2 separate regions of the Homo sapiens genome follow, and region 1 is linked to region 2. The links come from fine-mapping of genetic effects on gene expression. A gene starts in region 2. The other region holds a variant in brackets. All regions are shown on one strand. Distances are between the middles of the regions. Region 1 overlaps TIAL1 (TIA1 cytotoxic granule associated RNA binding protein like 1). Region 2 holds the start of RGS10 (regulator of G protein signaling 10).

The links. PIP is the estimated chance that this variant, and not a neighbour inherited with it, causes the effect.
Region 1: its variant is fine-mapped to the expression of RGS10 in whole blood (INTERVAL, PIP 0.93).

The regions. Positions count from the first base shown.
Region 1 is chr10:119,579,771-119,588,326 of GRCh38, reverse strand. TIAL1 (TIA1 cytotoxic granule associated RNA binding protein like 1) reads left to right here. Exons shown (of 12, transcript NM_003252.4): 2 at 79-175; 3 at 5,770-5,868; 4 at 6,104-6,158; 5 at 6,318-6,405; 6 at 8,317-8,392. Among named protein-coding and RNA genes, the nearest start is that of TIAL1, 13 kb to the left of the region's middle. The variant G/A (reference allele first, on the strand shown) is at 3,584.
Region 2 is chr10:119,539,031-119,548,656 of GRCh38, reverse strand. RGS10 (regulator of G protein signaling 10) reads left to right here and starts at 5,938. Exons shown (of 5, transcript NM_001005339.2): 1 at 5,938-6,067. The coding sequence starts at 6,019. RefSeq lists enhancers at 4,175-4,683, 4,946-5,025 and silencers at 5,236-5,395, 5,446-5,515, 5,526-6,265, 6,316-6,485.

The DNA of each region.
Region 1 (8,556 bases), 40 kb before region 2:
GGTGATGAATTAGATGATAACACATTAGAGCCAGAGCTAAAGGAAAAATTGCTGATAACGTATTTTTTTCTTGTGCAGATACGTAGGTAACCTTTCCAGAGATGTGACAGAAGTCCTTATACTTCAGTTGTTCAGTCAGATTGGACCCTGTAAAAGCTGTAAAATGATAACAGAGGTAAGATCTTCCCAGTTCCATGTGCTGACAATTAGCATGATGGGTTGATTAGCATGATTTTAAAATTTCATTGTAAGCCTCAAGTTATTCTGGTGGAGAGATTTGTGTTGTGTTGACTTATTACTTTGATTTGGCTGACAAACTAGGCTTAGAATGGAGTTTTATTTAAGAGGGCAAAGTTTCCGTGCTGTTAAGCTCAAACGGTCATTCTTCATGGTGTGGTTATCTTGAAGTGATTCTGCTTTCAGAACATTATTAGAGCTCATTTCAGAATGGTGAAAAATTGGAAAGTATTTCATACAATTCCAATAAGAATGTTAACGATTTAGACAGCATGTGTTCATGTGCGAGAACACGAAGTTATTATGTGTGTAGTGTGCAGCACCGTTCGTCTCGTGTGTCTGTAGCAAATACTTACCTTTTTATACTTTCCTGCTAAGACTGTAGCAGCACCCAATTAGTCATGTTTTAGGCTTTTCTTCCTTGTGTTTTTGTTCATTGATCAGCTTTCTTTTTTTTTTTTGGACTATTTCCTATGTACTAGATACTGCAGTAAGTGCTAGAGATACACTGGTGAATAAAGATAGTTCCTTGGCCCAGAGAATTTTACAGTTTAGTAGGGAGACAAAGGAGTTAGCAGGCACTTAGGAAGTAGGATAATAAATGCTCTAGAAGCAGACAACTTAAAGTGCTGTGGGAGCAAATGTGTATCCAGTGCAGCCTTAGGTCAGTGAGCGGCTTCTTGGAGGACTCACTGCCTAGGCGGAAACCTTGAAAGGATAGTAGTACATACTGGCTAGAAAGGAATTGAGGGAAGAAGGGATTCCAAATAAAGGGAACTTTGATCCAGGTTGGTAGGGAGAGCAGGAGTGCTTGAGACAGAGAGGGAAAAATAGAACCCGTAGCATGGTTGTAGTTAAAATGGAATTAGTCGTAAGAGATGGCAGGAGTTTATGGAAAGGGCTAGAAACTGTGCTAAAGAGTTTGTTTTATCCTGAAACGGAGAACTGTTAAAAACCTTTAAAGTGCATTGGCCTTTTGATTGTCTTTCCCAAGTAATGACAATCATCATTTTGTTCTGGTGTATTATATTTTTCCTTCCTGCCTTTAATTATTTATTTGTGCTTTCATCGATCAAAAATTTCCTTTGCACTAGGCACTATACAAGGTACTGGAGATATAATGGAGAGACAGCCAAATGAGTTTCCCAAGCAAATAGGGATGTAAGCCATGAAGAGAATAAAACAGAGTTCTGTGATGATTGGAGGGTTGGTGCTATATAGGCTAGGTGATGAGAGATGTCACCTCTTTGAGCTGAGATGAATAACAAGATGGTGCTATCTATGGTAAGAGCTGGAGGCAGAGGAAACAGCAAATACAAGTCTTGAGTTGGTAATGAACTTGTGTTTGTGGAATCAAAGACCGATGGCTAGAGTCTGGTGAGGGATGGAGGGGAGTTAAGGGAAATGAGTCTAACAGCAGGATTCAGAATCACAGGACATTATGGTCCATGACATAGTTTAGGTTTTACTCTGATTGCTGTGGCAGACCAGTGGAGGGGCTTAAGCAGGGGGATGAGGTGCCAAGATTTGCATATTTAAGCTTACTACTCTATGTAGAGAATGACTGTTTTATGGAGAATAGATTGTAGCGGGCAAGAGCAGAAGGAGAAAAACCATCTGGATTTACTTCACTAGTCTAGGTAAGAGATGATGGAGGCTTATTCTCGAAAGTGCTAGCCGAAGTCAAGATAAGGACAGAGGTTGATAGATTTGGAATATATTTTGGAGGTAGAATTGATAGGACTGGGTTGGCTGTGGGACATAGGGAAAGGAAGAAATCAGGAAATACCCTAAGATTCATGTTAATGCAGTTGTATAGTTGGTAATGCTATTTATTTGCTAAAGTGGGGGTGACCTGATGGATGTCACCATGGGGAGTGGTGGGAATCAGAAATTGTGTTTTGGATGTTAGATTTAAGACATGAATTAGACATCAAAGTGGACGTTAGATTAGGCAGTTGGATAAAGTAGTTTGCAACTCTAGAGAGACCGGTGCTGAAGCTTGCAGTGGTATTTGAATCCATGAAGCCATGGGACTAGATGAGTTCACAGAGAGAGAATGATGGTAAAGAAGAGCACAGAGGCCGTGAGGTCTGAGCCCTGGACAAGCTCAACATTTAGAGTTTGAGTAAGGGAAGAAAGATCCTACAGTGAGGAAACAGGAAAACCAGAGTGTGGTAGGAGACAGAAGAGAATGTTTAAAGGAGGATGGTGGTCAACTGTAGTGAATTCTGCTTGGAAGTAAAGATTAGGATGGAAAAGGAATCACAGAAGCAGCAGAGAGGTCATTGTTGAGCTCAACATGCAGTTTCAGTGGCATGGTTAGCTTGGAAGCTGACAGAAGTAGGTTTAGGAGAGAACGGGTTGTGAGAAAGTGGGGAAAGACTCACTAGAAAATTTTTGAGAAACATTTGTAAAGATTTATTTTAACTATTTTTTAAAACCCCATGTATACATACAGCTATTTGAAGGGTAGAGGGACTCGAAATGAATTTTCATAACATCCATATTCTAGAACTCCTAGATTTGAGCTTGTAAAGTCTCATATTTCTCTGTCTTGACATTTATGTCATCCAACAAAAATTGGTGACAACGCTAAATAAGGTAGGGACATAACGGATTTTTTTTTTTTTTTTTTAAGAGACAGGGTCTGACTCTGTCCTCCAGGCTGGAGTGCAGTGGCGCCATCATGGCTCACTGCAGCCTCCACCTCCTGGGTTCAAGTGATCCTCCCACCTCAGTCTCCCAAGTAGCTGGGACAGCACCGCCACACCTAGTTCATTTTTAAATGTGTTTGTAGAGATTGGTTTCACCATGTTACCAATGGTCCCGAACTTCTGGCTGGTCCTAAACTCCTAGGCTCAAGTGATCCTCCTGCCTCTGCCTCATCCTCCTAAAGTGCTGAGATTATAGGCATGAGACACTGCACCCAGCCATAATTGATTTTTTTTTTTTTTTTTTTTTTTTGAGATGGAATCTTGCTCTTTTGCCCAGGCTGGAGTGCAATGGCATGATCTCGGCTCACTGCAGCCTTGGCCTCCTGGGTTCAAGTGATTCTCCTGCCTCAGCCTCCCAAGTAGCTGGGACTACAGGTGCGTGCCATCATGCCCAGCTAATATTTTTTATTTTTTTATTTTTTGTATTTTTAATAGAGACAAGGTTTCACCATATTAGCCAGGATGGTCTTGATCTTCTGACCTCGTGAACCGCCCACCTCGCCCTCCCAAAGTGCTTGGGTTACAGGCGTGAGCACTTTTTTTTGAGACAGAGTCTGGCTCTGTTGCCCGGGCTGGAGTGCAGTGGCACGATCTTGGCTCACTGCAACCTCTGCCTCCCAGGTTCAAAC[G/A]ATTCTCCTGCCTCAGCCTCCTGAGTAGCTGGGATTACAGGCGCCCGCCACCACACCCAGCTAATTTTTTGTATTTTTGGTAGAGATGGGGGTCTCACCATGTTGGTCAGGCTGGTCTCGAACTCCTGACCTCAAGTGATCCAGCTGCCTCAGCCTTCCAAAGTGCTGGGATTACAGGTGTGAGCCACTGCACCCAGCCCATAATTGATTTTTAGGATGTCACTTGGTGGTGTAAATAAGAAGCTTCCAGAGGGTATAAACTCTAGCAGAGTATCTAGCAGCTATTTATTTTTCTTTCATAAATTTCATTTCAGTATGTGAAAAATCCTTTTTCCCCCATAGTTTTATGATTTTTTTTTTACTTTAGATGTTGTTATCATAGATTCTAGCTTTCCTTATATAATACAAATATATATTATTGATTCTAAGTCAAATTTTTTTAGAATTTTAATATCTGACAGTTGGGATGTGACTTAGAAATAAGTGGTGTCTTAAATTAGATGATATGCAGTGTGATGTGAATATATAAAATATGTGATGTCAGTGAATATATGTGTATATATACATGCACGTGCATACATTGATTGGGAGCTGGCCTACTATTAGATAGATTTGAAATTGGTATTCACGAGTAGACTAGTTTCCTAAAGTGTATGGGATTATCATAGATCTGCTGTTGGACCCCTGTATGTTTTGCTGTGATTATCAGTGTTTTCCTTAGAGACCATTGGGGCAAAAGAGATAGGAGTGAAAGGAAAACTCAACTAGCACAATTTTAGCCTCTTATTTATTTTGATGTCCTTTCTTCAATGAATATTTATGGTAAATGTAATAACTCTTTTACAAGAATTTAAATGTGTGTTTTCATTTGAAGTCTTCCCCCATTTCCTTTCTTTACCTCTTAAGAACAGCATTCACGTGGCTACAACAGTAGGATTTTGTATGAGAGCCCATAGTTTTGTTGTCAGTATTAACGATCCCACTTTTTTTCCCTCAAGGAAATGCCTTCTGGTTCCTTTGCCACTATTGTTTAGACGTCTTATTTTGGATTTTTCTTCTAAAACTTTCCTGGAATGAAAAACTGTTGTGGTTGAAAAGATCTTTATTTTATCTGGTATATTTATCCCTTGTAAGTCCAACTAGAATTCCACATTTTAAATATTATTCTTATAGGGCATTTTACATTGAATAATGATGAATGTTTTTAGCCTTACATAAAAATATGTATTTGTACAGTTGTGCAGCTATTCAGTACAGGTTGCAGTTTCATAGAAATTCATTTCTAGTTTGGTTGTCAGGTGAGAATGTTGCTATAGCTTAGGTAGTACTACTTTCTTCACATCTTTATAAATGTGTTTTAGGTAACTACTGTCAAGCACAGGGTTGCAGAATATATTTAATATAGATTTTTTATATGGTGTTCTTATGATGTAAACTTATAGCTTTGTCTTGGAATATTTTATTCAGATACATTTTCAGAACCTCTTTTCTTGATCACCACTGTTATTTCTCTGATCTTTGGAAGACCAAATTCAAAGTATATAGAATCTTCAGTACATTAGACTATTTTGGAAGGTAGGGAATTCATTTCAGTAGCTGGTTATAAAGCTTAAGTTTTCTTGTTTTTATTTTCATTCTTTCCATATCCAGAAAAGAAATCAATAAAATTCAGTCTTTGTAGCAGCATAGAATTCCATCATTTGTAGTATTGATCCTAATTTTGATCAGTAGTTTATGAAGTTGGTTCTTGCTGTATTTCTGTATCCTGGGATACCACTTATAGAGGATTATGATGCATAAGTAGAACGTAATTTAAAAATAATATTGGAGAAGGAAAGTAGTGGTAAGGAGTGGTCCTCATCAGATCTGAGTTTGAGGTTTTGTTTGGTTTAATATAATCTTCTATTTTATATTTAACACACTTCACCAGAATTCTTTATTTTCATTTAATACTGATGCTCATGATTCTACAACTGCTTTTATAGTTCCGTTTGAGTTCAGCAGTATTCTGAGGTGCAAAGTCAGGTTTAGCTTTAAATCTTATTTAAAAAGTGTTAGGCTTTCATAAGCTTATGCAGTCTCACCTTGTATATTCCCAGCTATCAGTAATGTTTTTTCCTGGATTTTCTTCTCAGCAACCCGATAGCAGAAGGGTCAACTCTTCTGTTGGATTTTCTGTTTTGCAGCATACAAGCAATGACCCATATTGCTTTGTGGAATTTTATGAACACAGAGATGCAGCTGCTGCATTAGCTGCTATGAATGGGAGAAAAATTTTGGGAAAGGTAAGATAATAGGATGATGGCACCTTATGAGTACATATATTTGCATGTCAAACTAGTTTGTATTCTTTCTAGGCAAATTTTTGAGCAGATATTCGGCTGCTGAGTGATGGTTTTGCTTTATTCAGCTTAGTGCTTTTACAAAAATAACCCTGCTTGATAAATGATTTAATAAGTGGTAAGTGTTGTAACTCATGACATGCCTAATAATTTTATTAAATATAATCTTTATTTTTAGGAGGTCAAAGTAAACTGGGCAACCACACCAAGTAGCCAGAAAAAAGATACTTCCAGTAAGTACTCCTGCTGCATTTTACTGTGGAAGAGTTCTGAAATTATCCAGGAGGCATTACCAGCTTAAATAGGTTTTTTTTTCCTCCTCTAGAGTTGCCTTAAAAAGGTTTTAGTGGCTGACTTCTTAAGTATTTGATTACCAAATGCTCTGATTTCAGATCACTTCCATGTGTTTGTTGGGGATTTGAGTCCAGAAATTACAACAGAAGATATCAAATCAGCATTTGCCCCCTTTGGTAAAATATCGTAAGTATCATAATCAGTACTACACTCAGTCATGATAGGCAGAATTGTATATGATTAACTTGTAATTGAATTAAGATTTTCTTTCTCTAGTTAGTATGGTTTTGTTTTGTTTCTTATTTTTCATTTATTTATTTTGGTTTGTTTTGAGTAGTGGATGTTGTTGAAAATGTTAATGTCATTTCAGTGTCTTGGGGTCTCGTTTTCATCTAATCCTGTGTATAATATGTTAAAAAAAATTTAAGTGATTCTGTTTGTTATCTTTGAAGCAGATGTTTGAATGGTAAAACTTATAAAGTCTAGCTTTTTGTCATATGTTTTCAAAATTTGATGGTTTAGGATAATGAGTTAATCAAAAGTAAATGTGATCTATACTGTGTAAGAGTTCAATAACTTTTATAGGAGGAATTTATAAATGGGGGAGAGTAGGTAAATCCTTGGATATATTGTGATTAAATTGGAAATGTTCATGTTTTATTATGATAAATGTGTTTTTGATATTTTAGCTATAAGTGAAAAGTACTATTATACTATTAAAATGTTTCAATGTATGAGTCATAAATGTGGGATTAATTAGATGTTTTTGTTAGTGATATTTGATTCTACTAGTTAAGAGGCAAATGTGGTTTGATTTTTAACAAATTTATGCTCAGATTTTACTGTTGTTACTTGGTAAAAAATATATTGGAAAACTAAAAATGGTTATGAATTGTAGAAAATGTTTATCATAATTTATCTTTCTGATTAAAATCAGTTTATTTTGTATATTTCCTGTAGATTTAAATTAAACATCTTAGTACTACTTTACAGGAAAGTGTTTCAACTAAGAACAACAATATTTTCTCTATACAATTTGTTGTTCTATAGATTTAATTTCTTTAAAAGATGTAATTCTTAACTTTCTGTTTTGATATTTGCTTTGCTTTTTAATCTAAATGTGGTAAGTAGTACTATTTTAAAAATCAATATAAAAATAATACAGGTTGCTGTTTTTCAATCTTTATTTATACCTGAGACCTGCAGTTTTTCTTAAGTCCAAGTCACAATTAAAAGTAATAGCATTCTGGTTATTTTGCAGAATTGCTCATAAGAATGGACAGGATCTTGAAGGCTAACTGCAAGGAACTGTGCACACTGGAACTCAGTTGTAGATTTTTTTTCTCATTTCTATTTATTCTTATTATACATTATTTATATATACATATTTTAGTATTTACATTTTAACATTCTATATTCAGTGGAGTTCTATATTTCCAATCATTTAACTTACTCACTAAAATTTCTGTGTAAATTTGTTGTTTTCGTACTGGTGTGCTTAGCATTGTTGTTAGTTTTTTATTCTCCTTTCTTAAATTTCTGAAAATGTCAATTTTTCAAAATTTACAGCTGCCCAAACTCCAAAATGATGGTAGAGAATTGACCAAGAAAAATAAAGAAATCTGTTAACAGGCCATGTATGCCTTTTTAATTCCTATTTTTTCCTCTTTTTCAATTTTTTAATATTTCATATATTTTGTATCACTAGGCAGAAGACATTTAACTATTTAGAGATTGCATGGTAAAGTAGTTAGTATTGTTACAGTAATTTATAGAATCAGTAAACCTTAGAGGACACTAGTAAATAGAATATTAGAAAGGGAAACTGTTGTTCCTATTAATCTTCAAATTTGAGCATTTAGTTTAGAAAGCACAGGCTATTTGATTAGGTTGCATGTTTATTACATGTTTTTGTCCTACTGCTTTTTTCTAACAGGTAAAGAAGCATTAGGGAGAGTTCAGGAATGGTTGTAGTTAATTAGGGCTAACTGGAATTTTATTTTAAAAATGCTCACAATACAGTGTGTGTGGTTCCTTTTAGTTTTTATTTTGAGGGTGGCTCTTACTTCCCTCATTTAGCTGTGCTTCTTTTCACAGGGATGCCCGGGTAGTTAAAGACATGGCAACTGGAAAATCCAAAGGCTATGGTTTTGTATCTTTTTATAACAAACTGGTACGTTCTTCCATCTCAATTTATATTTTTTAATACTAAATTTAGTCATTAGTTACTTAATGTATTGAATCTGAAACTTGAATATACTTGAATGTTAACTACAAACACAACTTTTATGTAATGTTATGTATGTTTTAATAATAGAGTATAATTTCATTCCTCTT
Region 2 (9,626 bases):
CAGTAGTTCATAAGTCCAGAGCTTCTGTACTTCACTATTTCCCAAGATCATTATTTCCTAAGGTAGGTGGCAGGGGAACTGAAGTCTCCTTATATAGACTTCTATCAATCTCCCCTTTTCAGTCCTTGCCTGTCCTCTTCTCTGTGGTCTGTGCCTTTGGGTCAGGAGCTCCTCTGAGGCTCTGCAGGGTGAATTGGCTTGTTCTAACTGGCACGCCCTGCCTGCATTTAGGTTGTAGCTCCTTCCTCTTGTTAAGTGTTTCTGCTTCTCCATCTCCTTTCTGATTGGCTGAAATCTCTCTCCCATTGTTGTCTCCTTTTTCTTTTCTTTCCTTCCTTCCTTCCTCCCTTCCTTCCTCCCTTCCTCCCTTCCTTCCTTCCTTCCTTCCTTCTTTCTTTTCTTTCTTTTTTTTTTTTTTGAGATAGCGTTTCACTCTTGTTGCCCAGGCTGGAGTGCAATGGCACAATCTCGGCCCACCGCAACCTCCGCCTCCCAGGATCAAGCGATTCTCCTGCCTCAGCCTCCCGAGTAGCTGGGATTACAGGCATGTGCCGCCACGCCCGGCTGCAGACATAGACAAGCAAGCTGGATGCTTGCACGGGTGAATGCCGGCAGAAAAAAAGCTACTTGGGACTAGGCATGTTCAGAATGGCGGCTCCATCTTCCCTTGTCTTTGCCAGCCACATGTGTATAAGGAGCAGACAAGATGTCACCAGTCAAGTGGAAAACTCATTTGTGTAGTAAGATTAGGGTGGGGTGGCCAGCCTTCCCTGGGCGCTTTGTAAACGTCACATCTGATCTAACCAATCTGTGGGCCCTATGTAAATCATTCACCGCCTTCTCAAGTCTGCCTATAAAATCCAGTGAACCCCACCACTGTTGGTCTTTCCTTTCGGAAGCCCCTCTCTCTCCCTAGAGAGAGAACTGTTCTCCTTTCTCTTACTCCTGCGTATTAAACTTTCTGCTCCTTAGCCCCACACCCTCCAAAAAAGGTGGGAGTCCTGAGATGGGAAAAGGGTATTTGATATGAACTCTGGATGATAACGATGTGTCATTGTAGGTTCCTTGATTGCACAAAGGTACCTCTCTGGTGTGGGAGGTCATATGCTATAAGAGGCTATGCGTGTTTGGGGCAGGAGGCATGTGGAACTCTACTTTCTGTTCAATTTTGCTGTGAACCTAAAATTGCTCTAAAAATAAAATTTACTTTTGCCAGGTGCAGTGGCTTACGTAATCCCAGCCCTCTGGGAGGCCGAGGTGGGCAGATCACGAGATCAGGAGATGGAGACCAGCCTGGCCAACATGGTGAAATCCCATCTCTATTTATTTATTTGAGACTCCATCTCAAATAAATAAATAAATAAATAAACAAAATTAAAAATAAAAAAATTAATGAATAAATAAATACATACGTACGTACATACATAAGTAGCAGGGTATGGTGGTGCACTCCTGTAGCCCTAGCTACTCAGGAGACTGAGGTAGGGGGACTGCCTGAGCTCAGGAGTTCAAGGCTGCAGTGAGCTATGATCGCAGCACCACACTCCAGCCTGGGCGACAGAACAAGTCCCTGTCTCTAAAAAACAAAACACAAAACTGCAACAGAAATGAAGCCTTATGTATTTTTGTGGCATTAAACCCAGTAGAGATTTCAACTAGTCTCTAATTAGTGATTTTTCTCCCTGATTTAAAAGCACATACACTGCAGAAGTTTGCAAAACAGGAAAATGTAATGAAGAAAAAAGAACCCATTATCCTATTATCTAGAGATATAGTCTAGTAATATTTAGGTGTAATTAACTGCTAGCTTTCTAGGTATAAACATACCGTATTCTCCTCTTCCTCCACACTGAAAATTTTCTCTATATTTGTATCCTGATTTTTCAACGAGAGCTTCGTCTAAGATTCTTTCATCTTTCTCTTTGCACTAGTTTTTTCCACCAAGTTCCAAAGATTCTTCACAGTTTTTTATAACTGTTAAATATTCTATCAGGAGAATATGTTATACCTTAGTCATTCTCTTAGCGGGCATTTTTAGCTACTGTAAATAACCCTGATAAAAGGAAGTGTTATGTTTAATTGTACACGTAAATGTTCGCATCATTTATTGTTTTTCTTTTGGCACAAATTACCAATTATAGAATTATTCACTAGTCCAAGAGGTATAAACATTTTGAAGACTCTTACATGTGTTGTCAAATACATATATTAACACATCTGCTTCTCTTCCTTCTAGAGAGGTTGTAACAATTTACTTTCCCTCCTTCACAGTGTAGTAACAATGTGAACATCAGTGTTACTAACCCTGCCAATTTCCTATAATTGAAAAGAAATCCACTTTTGACTGGCTGTACCATAAAGTTTATCATTTATTAAAACATCATTGTAGGGGGAGTAAGAGTAATTAAAATTCCAGTAATTTTTTGTGTGCCTACATGTGCTGGGCACGATGCCAGATGCTTTTTTGTTTATTGCTATTGAATACCACTTGCTCGGAGTGTAGGTGGACCTCTCCTTGCCCTGTCCCTTGAGGCTACGATGTGTTTGAGGACACATCTGGTGTGTCCACACAGCTGGTTGCTGTTTGGTCAGATTAGTACCCAGGTCTCTTGACTTTAAGTTGGCCACTTATTCATTTTACTATACCTTGTCTGCCTCAACTGGCCTAGAATAGTCTTGTTACATAAATTCTGGTGATGAGAGGCTCTAAAATGTATTCACAGCTTACCAATATTTTAGTTTCTGGGTAGAATGAAAATATTGAACTCCAAAGCCAGTAATCCCTCTGAAATCTTGTGTTACCAGAAGACATCCGGGGCTCTTGCTTCTTGCCTGATGTAAACATCCTTGAACCAAAAGTGAGACCAGCAGGGGAAGAAAGGGGCTAAACCGCTCATCCTCTTCTTCCCCACACTGGCTACCGCAGTTTGTTTGTGAAGGCTTGACTTAGGAGGCTAAGGAGGGAGGATCACTTGAGAGCCCAGAAGTCAGAAATCAGCCTGGACAACATAGTGAAACCTCTGTCTCAAAAAAAAAAAAAAAAAAAAAAAAAAGCTTCAGAAAGTGCATGCTGGAATTACAGGAAAAATGCCATTGGGATGGTGAGCACCTTCAATCCAATGCAAACCACGGTTGGAACTTAATCGTGTGTGTGTGTGTGTGTGTGTGTGTGAGTGTGTGTGTGTATGTGTGTGTGCATTTGGCGAGTTTTAGGAGTTAGGAGGCTTTATACTTTTATACGTGGTCTTTTGCACAATACACTTTGAAAACTGGCTTTTGAACCTTCAGACACTTAAAACAGGTATTTATAGCAATTTCAATGTCCCAGGCAAAAATTTTAAACTGTGCACTTAAACGTTAACCATGCATTTTTTTTTTTTTTTTTTTTGAGATGGAGTCTTGCTCAGTCACCCAGGCTGGAGTGCAATGGCTCGATCTCAGTTCACTGCAAACTCTGCCTCCCGGGTTCAAGCGATTCTCCTGCCTCAGCCTCCTGAGTAGCTGGGATTACAGATGCCTGCCACCGCGCCTGGCTAATTTTGTATTTTTAGTAGAGATGAGGTTTCACCATGTTCGTCAGGCTGGTCTCGAACTCCCGACCTCAGGTGATCCGCCCGCCTTGGCCTCCCAAAGTGCTGGGATTACAGGTGTGAACCACCGCACCCGGCCTTTTTTTCCTTTTTTTGGAGACAGAGTCTTGCTCTGTGGCCCAGGCTGGAGTGCAGTGGTGAGATCTCAGCTCACTGCAACCTCCTCCTTCAGATCTTGGCTCACTGCAACCTCCTCCTCCCAGGCTCAAGTGATTCTTCTGTGTCAGCCTCCTGAGTAGCTGGGATTACAGGCACCTGCCACCAGGCCTGGCTAATTTTTGTATTTTTAGTACAGATGGGGCTTCACCATGTTAGCCAGGCTGGTCTTGAACTCCTGACCTCAGGTAATCCGCCTGCCTCTGCCTCCCAAAGTGCTGGGATTACAGACGTGAGCCACAGCGCCTGGCCCTAACTATGCATCTTAATTTTTGTACTTACTCTCTGATGTGCTAACAGGACAGTAAAAGTGATTTAAGGCTGTTATATTTTCCCTTTATTTAAGAGATGCCTGGGGTTCTTAGCTCAGGAGGGATTCATAGCATGTCTTAAGCCACACCAGTGTTTTTCAGGACACGCTAGGGTGGACTTGGCAACTAGCAAAACACTGAGCTGCTGTGCCTAACTTTTACCCCTGTGTGCCAGTGTGCTTATTTCCTGTCTTAGGATTACTTGTAATTTGGTCTCGGGGAAGTTTTCTGGGTGAGTGCGTTGCACCAATTCCCTTATTGTTTTAAGAACGCAGTGACCTCACTTGGATCCAGGACTCTGCCAGCATTTAAAATCCCGCTCTTACGAAAGGTGAAACTCTTGCCTATAGTTAAGTATCACAGCTTGATCCCATTACAATGAGATGGAAGTTTGTCTGGGCCCGGAGTAGGCCAACAACAGCAGTTTTAAAAGCAGAACTCCCCGCGCTGGGTCTAACCCTGTTCTTGGTCACCGCGTTCGCTTCAGGAGCCTGGAAATCCTCTTTTGGCAGCAGAAGGGGGAGAGTGCTTGGAAATGCTCGGAGGAAAACGACTTTTGGAGGGGGAATAGCGGGGAGGGAAACAACAAGCAACCACCGGCCACACTTGGGGTGCAACTGGGGCTGTGGGGTGGGTAGAGGGAGAGGGAAAGTGAGCAGAACTGGAAGCTCAGAATAGAAGATACAAAAGAAAGTGCCAAGTAGTGAAAAAAACTGCAAAAGGACGGGGGGATGGGGGGAGGGCGACTGGGGAACGGTTTGGAAAAATAGCAATTAGTACAGCTAAAAATAAAGACCAATTTAGAGACAAAGCCAGATACACAAGGAGAAAAATAAAACTCGCCAGAAAGACAATTTCTTGCAAACCAAATGTTCAAGAAAATGGGGGCTAATGACATCCCCTCTGGGGCTGCTCCATAGAAGAAATGAAATAATAGGAGACCGTAGAGCGCGCAGCGCCCAGCAGGTGACGCCGTGGGGGCTTGAGTGGTCCCGGTCGTGGAGCCTGAAGGCCCTGCCAGAGGCAGTGCCCACGTGTCCCCAAAGTTAGAGAAGTGTCCCGAGAGCGCGGTGTGCGGGACAGAGCACCGCCCGGCGCAGGAACCGGGGGGTTCCTGCAGAATCCTCTCAGATCTCCCCGAGTCCTGGCGCCCGCGCGGCACGGCCGGGGAGAGGGCGCCCACCCGCGGCGGCTCGGCTAGCTCAGCGCACGGGCCCTGGGGACGCCCCACCCGCATTCGCGGGGCGGGAAGGCGCAGCGCCCACGAAGTCGAGGAGCAGCCAGGCCCCAGCAGGCGGGGATCCTGGTGACGAGGAGGCAAAGGCCACAGGCTGGGCCGCGCCCGGACTCTGCAGAACCGCGAGGCCTAGGCTTCCCAGCCTGTGACCCGGGAGGGGACCCCGCCCGCCACCTGCGAAGGCTCGCTGAGAGCCCCGAAGCGCGGTGCGCCCGCGGCGCCGTGCCAGTTTCTCCGGGGCTACAGGGAGAAGGCGGGAGACCGCGATGGGCCCGGGAGCTTGAAGCTGGGCGGGGCGGGCCGGGGCGGCATCTCAGGCGAGGGCCAGGGACCCCGGGACGCGCTAACCGCCTCCGCGGGGCTACTAAGTTCCCGGCGGCGCGGGCTCCCTCTGGGCCAGTGCACCTTATCCCAGGCGCGGGGCACACTCTGGGCGATCGGGGGTCACCCGGGGCTGCCCTGCCCTGCCCCGCCCGGGCACCCCGGAGCGGAACCGCGAGTCCTCACCAGCGGGGGCGGGCAGGGCGCACTGAGCGCGCCACGCGGCGCCTGGCTAGGAGGAGGGCGGCGGGCGGGGACCTAGAGCTCCGGGGCGGTGCTGAGCCCGCTCCTCCTCCTTGCCCTCCTCCTCCTCCTCCTCGCCCTCCTCCTCCTCCTCGCCTTCCTCCGGCTCAGCCGCCGCGCCGCCGGGCTGCTCCTTCTTCCTCCTCGGGCGCCCGCGGCGATGTTCAACCGCGCCGTGAGCCGGCTGAGCAGGAAGCGGCCGCCGTCAGGTAAGCGGCTTCGGGGGCCCGCGGGCTCGGGGTCGGGGCGCCGTTTCGCCCGCCCGGCCTCCTGCCCTCCCTCTTGTGCTCGGGCGCGGCTCGGTGGTACCTCCCAGACTGGAGCCCCGGCCGACCGCACCACCTCTCCCCGCTGGGTACCGCACCTTCGCGGTCCCAGCCGCGACGGGAGCGCAGAGCTCCTCCGGGAGCCCCGGGGAGGAAGTTTGGCTGAAAGAGGAACAGCCGCAGTTTTCTTTTTAGTGATGGTCTGGGAGAAAAAGGAGCGCCCCAAATCTCCAAACTTTGGAGGTGACATGGGGCTCCAGATTCCGAAAGCGGAACGGCGCGCGGGCTTCTCCCTCCGTGACGCTCTCCGCCTCCGCTGCGGGCGTGGGTGGAAGGATGCCGAGCGCCCGGGGGAGCACGGCTGGACCCGGGCATCCGACTGGGCCCCTGGGCCTGGGGCGTCGGGGGCCTTCGCTTCTGCCGCGAGGAGCCAAAAGGTGGGATCGCGAGGGTGGCGGAACCCCAGGATGGAGAAGGGCACTTCTGCGGTCCGAGCCAGCGAAGTTCTGACGTTACGAAGGATTCGCCTTGGCCGTCACTTTGGGCCAGCCTGAGCCACGATCTCGGGCAACTTGATAGGCCAAAGACCCCACGGTGAAGGTGGAGCCGTGCCCTTGATTCCGGTCCTTCCACCCTTTTGCTCATCACAATAGCTACGACCTGTGCAGGCCTTTGGGTGCGCCAAGGGCTTTGTCCACCGCGTTGGGTGAACTCTCCCTTCACCCCTAGGACAACCCGGTGAGTGAGGAGGGAGCGGAAGCCAGGCGCTGTTAGGTAACTTGCCCCAGTCACACTCCGCAGGTGATGGGGAGGCTTTCAAACCCAGGTTCCCCTGACTCTGAAGTTCGGGGGCTTTGCCGGGCTTCCCACGCCAAGATTCACTTCTGCTTGGCGCTCAGAGTCCCAACGCGTTGGTGCATTTCCTTTCTGCTCCTGGTATTTTATGAGGGACATTGTGGTTTAGAGACTGGGACCAGACTGGCTGGATCCGAATCTCACCTTCGCCATATTCACCAGCCGTGGGACCTTTCTGCAGAATGAGGTTCTGCACAGTGGGAATAACAGTAGCTACTCGCCTTTTAAAGTACTTAATTGGAACCTGTCTTCCATCCATCAGGTTTTGCAAATTATTGTATTTAATATGTAGGATTTCATAGGGTTGTTGTAATGATCTTACATTGTTGCCCGGCAAGTACTAAGTGCTCCGTTAGCGTTAGTGGTCATGTAAACCTTTTTGTGTTGCATGTGAGTCAAAGAATTCCCTTGTGGGTGTTAATGTTAACCAGTCTCTATGGTTGGCACAGGCCTGTGGAGCGCTGCTCAGAGCCTGGACTCGAATTAAACTCTTGGTTCTAACCTTGACTCTGTCATTCAGCAACACTGGGCAAATTACTTGATCTCTCTGTGCCTCCGTTTCAGTGATGTGCTGGAGCTGGCTCAAACTGGCTTGCAAGAGCCAGTTGCCAAATATTCAAAAAGTTTGGAAACTGGTTGTAAACCATAGGTAGCTTGAAAGTAGTTATGATGGGATATTTACATCATGAAAATCAACAAAGCTAAAAATGAAGGCTTCATTTTGACTCAGGAGAGCTGATGTTCCAGCACCTTTCTCCACCTGCAAAGTGGGTTTCATAGGGTTATGGGATTAAATACTCAAAACCATATGAAGCCCCTAGTACAATGTGTGGCACATAATAAAAGTGTAATAATTAGTAGCTTTTCTCCCTTTTGCCTGTTATAAATAGAGCTGCTATGAATAGCCCTGTACGCGTTACTTATTACTTTAGATTGCTTTTGGGTTGAAGACTGACAGATAGAACCATTGTATCCTGGGAGATACATGGATTTGGGGTGATTTTGCGTGTAGCCAGGTTGCACCCCAAAAAGGCTGAAGGCAGTTTTAGGGAACAAATTATTTCAGGGCAACAAATTTTAAACCTCATAAAATGTGGTTACATCACTGACAGAAAGGTCGGTCTCAGGCCGGGCTCAGTGGCTCACACCTGTGATCCCAGCACTTTGGGAGGCTGAGGCAGGAGGATTGCTTGAGCCCAGGAGTTCCAGATAAGCCTGGGAAACATGGCAAAACCCCGTCTCTACAAAAAAATTAAAAAATTAGCCAGGCATGGTGATGCGTGCCTGTAGTCCCAGCTCCTTAGACGGCTGAAGTGAGAGGATGGCTTGAGCCTGGGAGGTTGAGGCTACAGTGAGCTTAGATCGTGCCACTGCACTTCACCCTGGGTGACAGAGTGAGATCCAAAGAAAAGGAAAGAAGGAAGGAAGGGAGGAAGGAAGAAAAAAGGAAGGAAGGAAGGAAGATCAGCCACTAAACATCATGGATTGGTACTGGATGCCTCCACTCCAATAGCCTGATTTTCTTTGGAATTGTAGGTGTAGGGTCTTTCCCCATTATGGAAAATAACATAAGTTCTTGCCTGACTGGTCATCACCACCCAGCCGTGTGAAAAGAAGAAGCCTAGTGAGAAAGGGGTCATTTGGGCCTGTGGGCCGAGGTACTGAGAAGACAGCCAAGTGATTTTTGGGACCCTGTACTTAATTTTTTTTTTTTTTTTGTAATTTTGAATTATTTTTCTTAAAGAGGATCCTCAAATTGTATAAACTTCAGGCTCCACAAAAGCCAGAGCTGCTCCTGCAGGACCCCTGATTTGGACCTGGCTGTGGTCCTGCCTCCCCCAGTACCTTCTATTTTACACTTTTCCTACCTTTCAGCAAAATCTCACTGGAGACACTGTCTTTCCGCGGAGGATTTTGAGTTCCTAACCCCTCCTTCCAAGGTTCAGAGTGGGATTTCCTTATTCTTCCTGAGGTTTCTCAAAGTGTGTTCCACCCGTCCTGTGGGTTCAGGAGGGCTTTGATAAAGTGCAGCTTCTCAGGCCTTGCCCAGACTGATTCAGTGTTGGGGACTGTAGGTGGGGCTTGTCTTTGACAAGCACCCCAGAGAATTCTCAGGCCAGTGAAATGTGAGGGTCCCCCAACGGGATTCTGTCCACTCACCCTGCCCAGTTATCAACCTTGCATTGTTGATAGCTGAAATATGCCCATCTGAGATGCCAAGCTGAAGCCACCCGACTCCCTACCCCTGCAGCTGCACCCAGGGGTGACCTCTCAGGGGAATTCCCACCCTGCCGGGCAGGTTTCGGCCGTCCCCTCGGGCCTGTCATACAGGATCCGATTAAACCCTTGGGAACAGTTTTAAGTTTATGGCTGGGCTTGTTTTATTTAAAGATGACAGTTTGCACAGCAATTTAATGTCTTTGTTTTAACAACTCGGCAGCAGGGTAGCCTTGGCAGCTGGGACAACTTTCTCTGCAGAATATCACTGGCCCAGGCCTGGGGGGACAGAGGGGCCAGCCGAAGGGCCTTGTTTTCTATAGGTGTGGTCAGCTTATGAGCCAGTTGAGCCTCTGGGACCTGCTCTGGGCACCACCTAGTGCAGCCCGTAGCCTGGTGGGTGTGAGGTGCTCACGGTGTTTTATCTCTG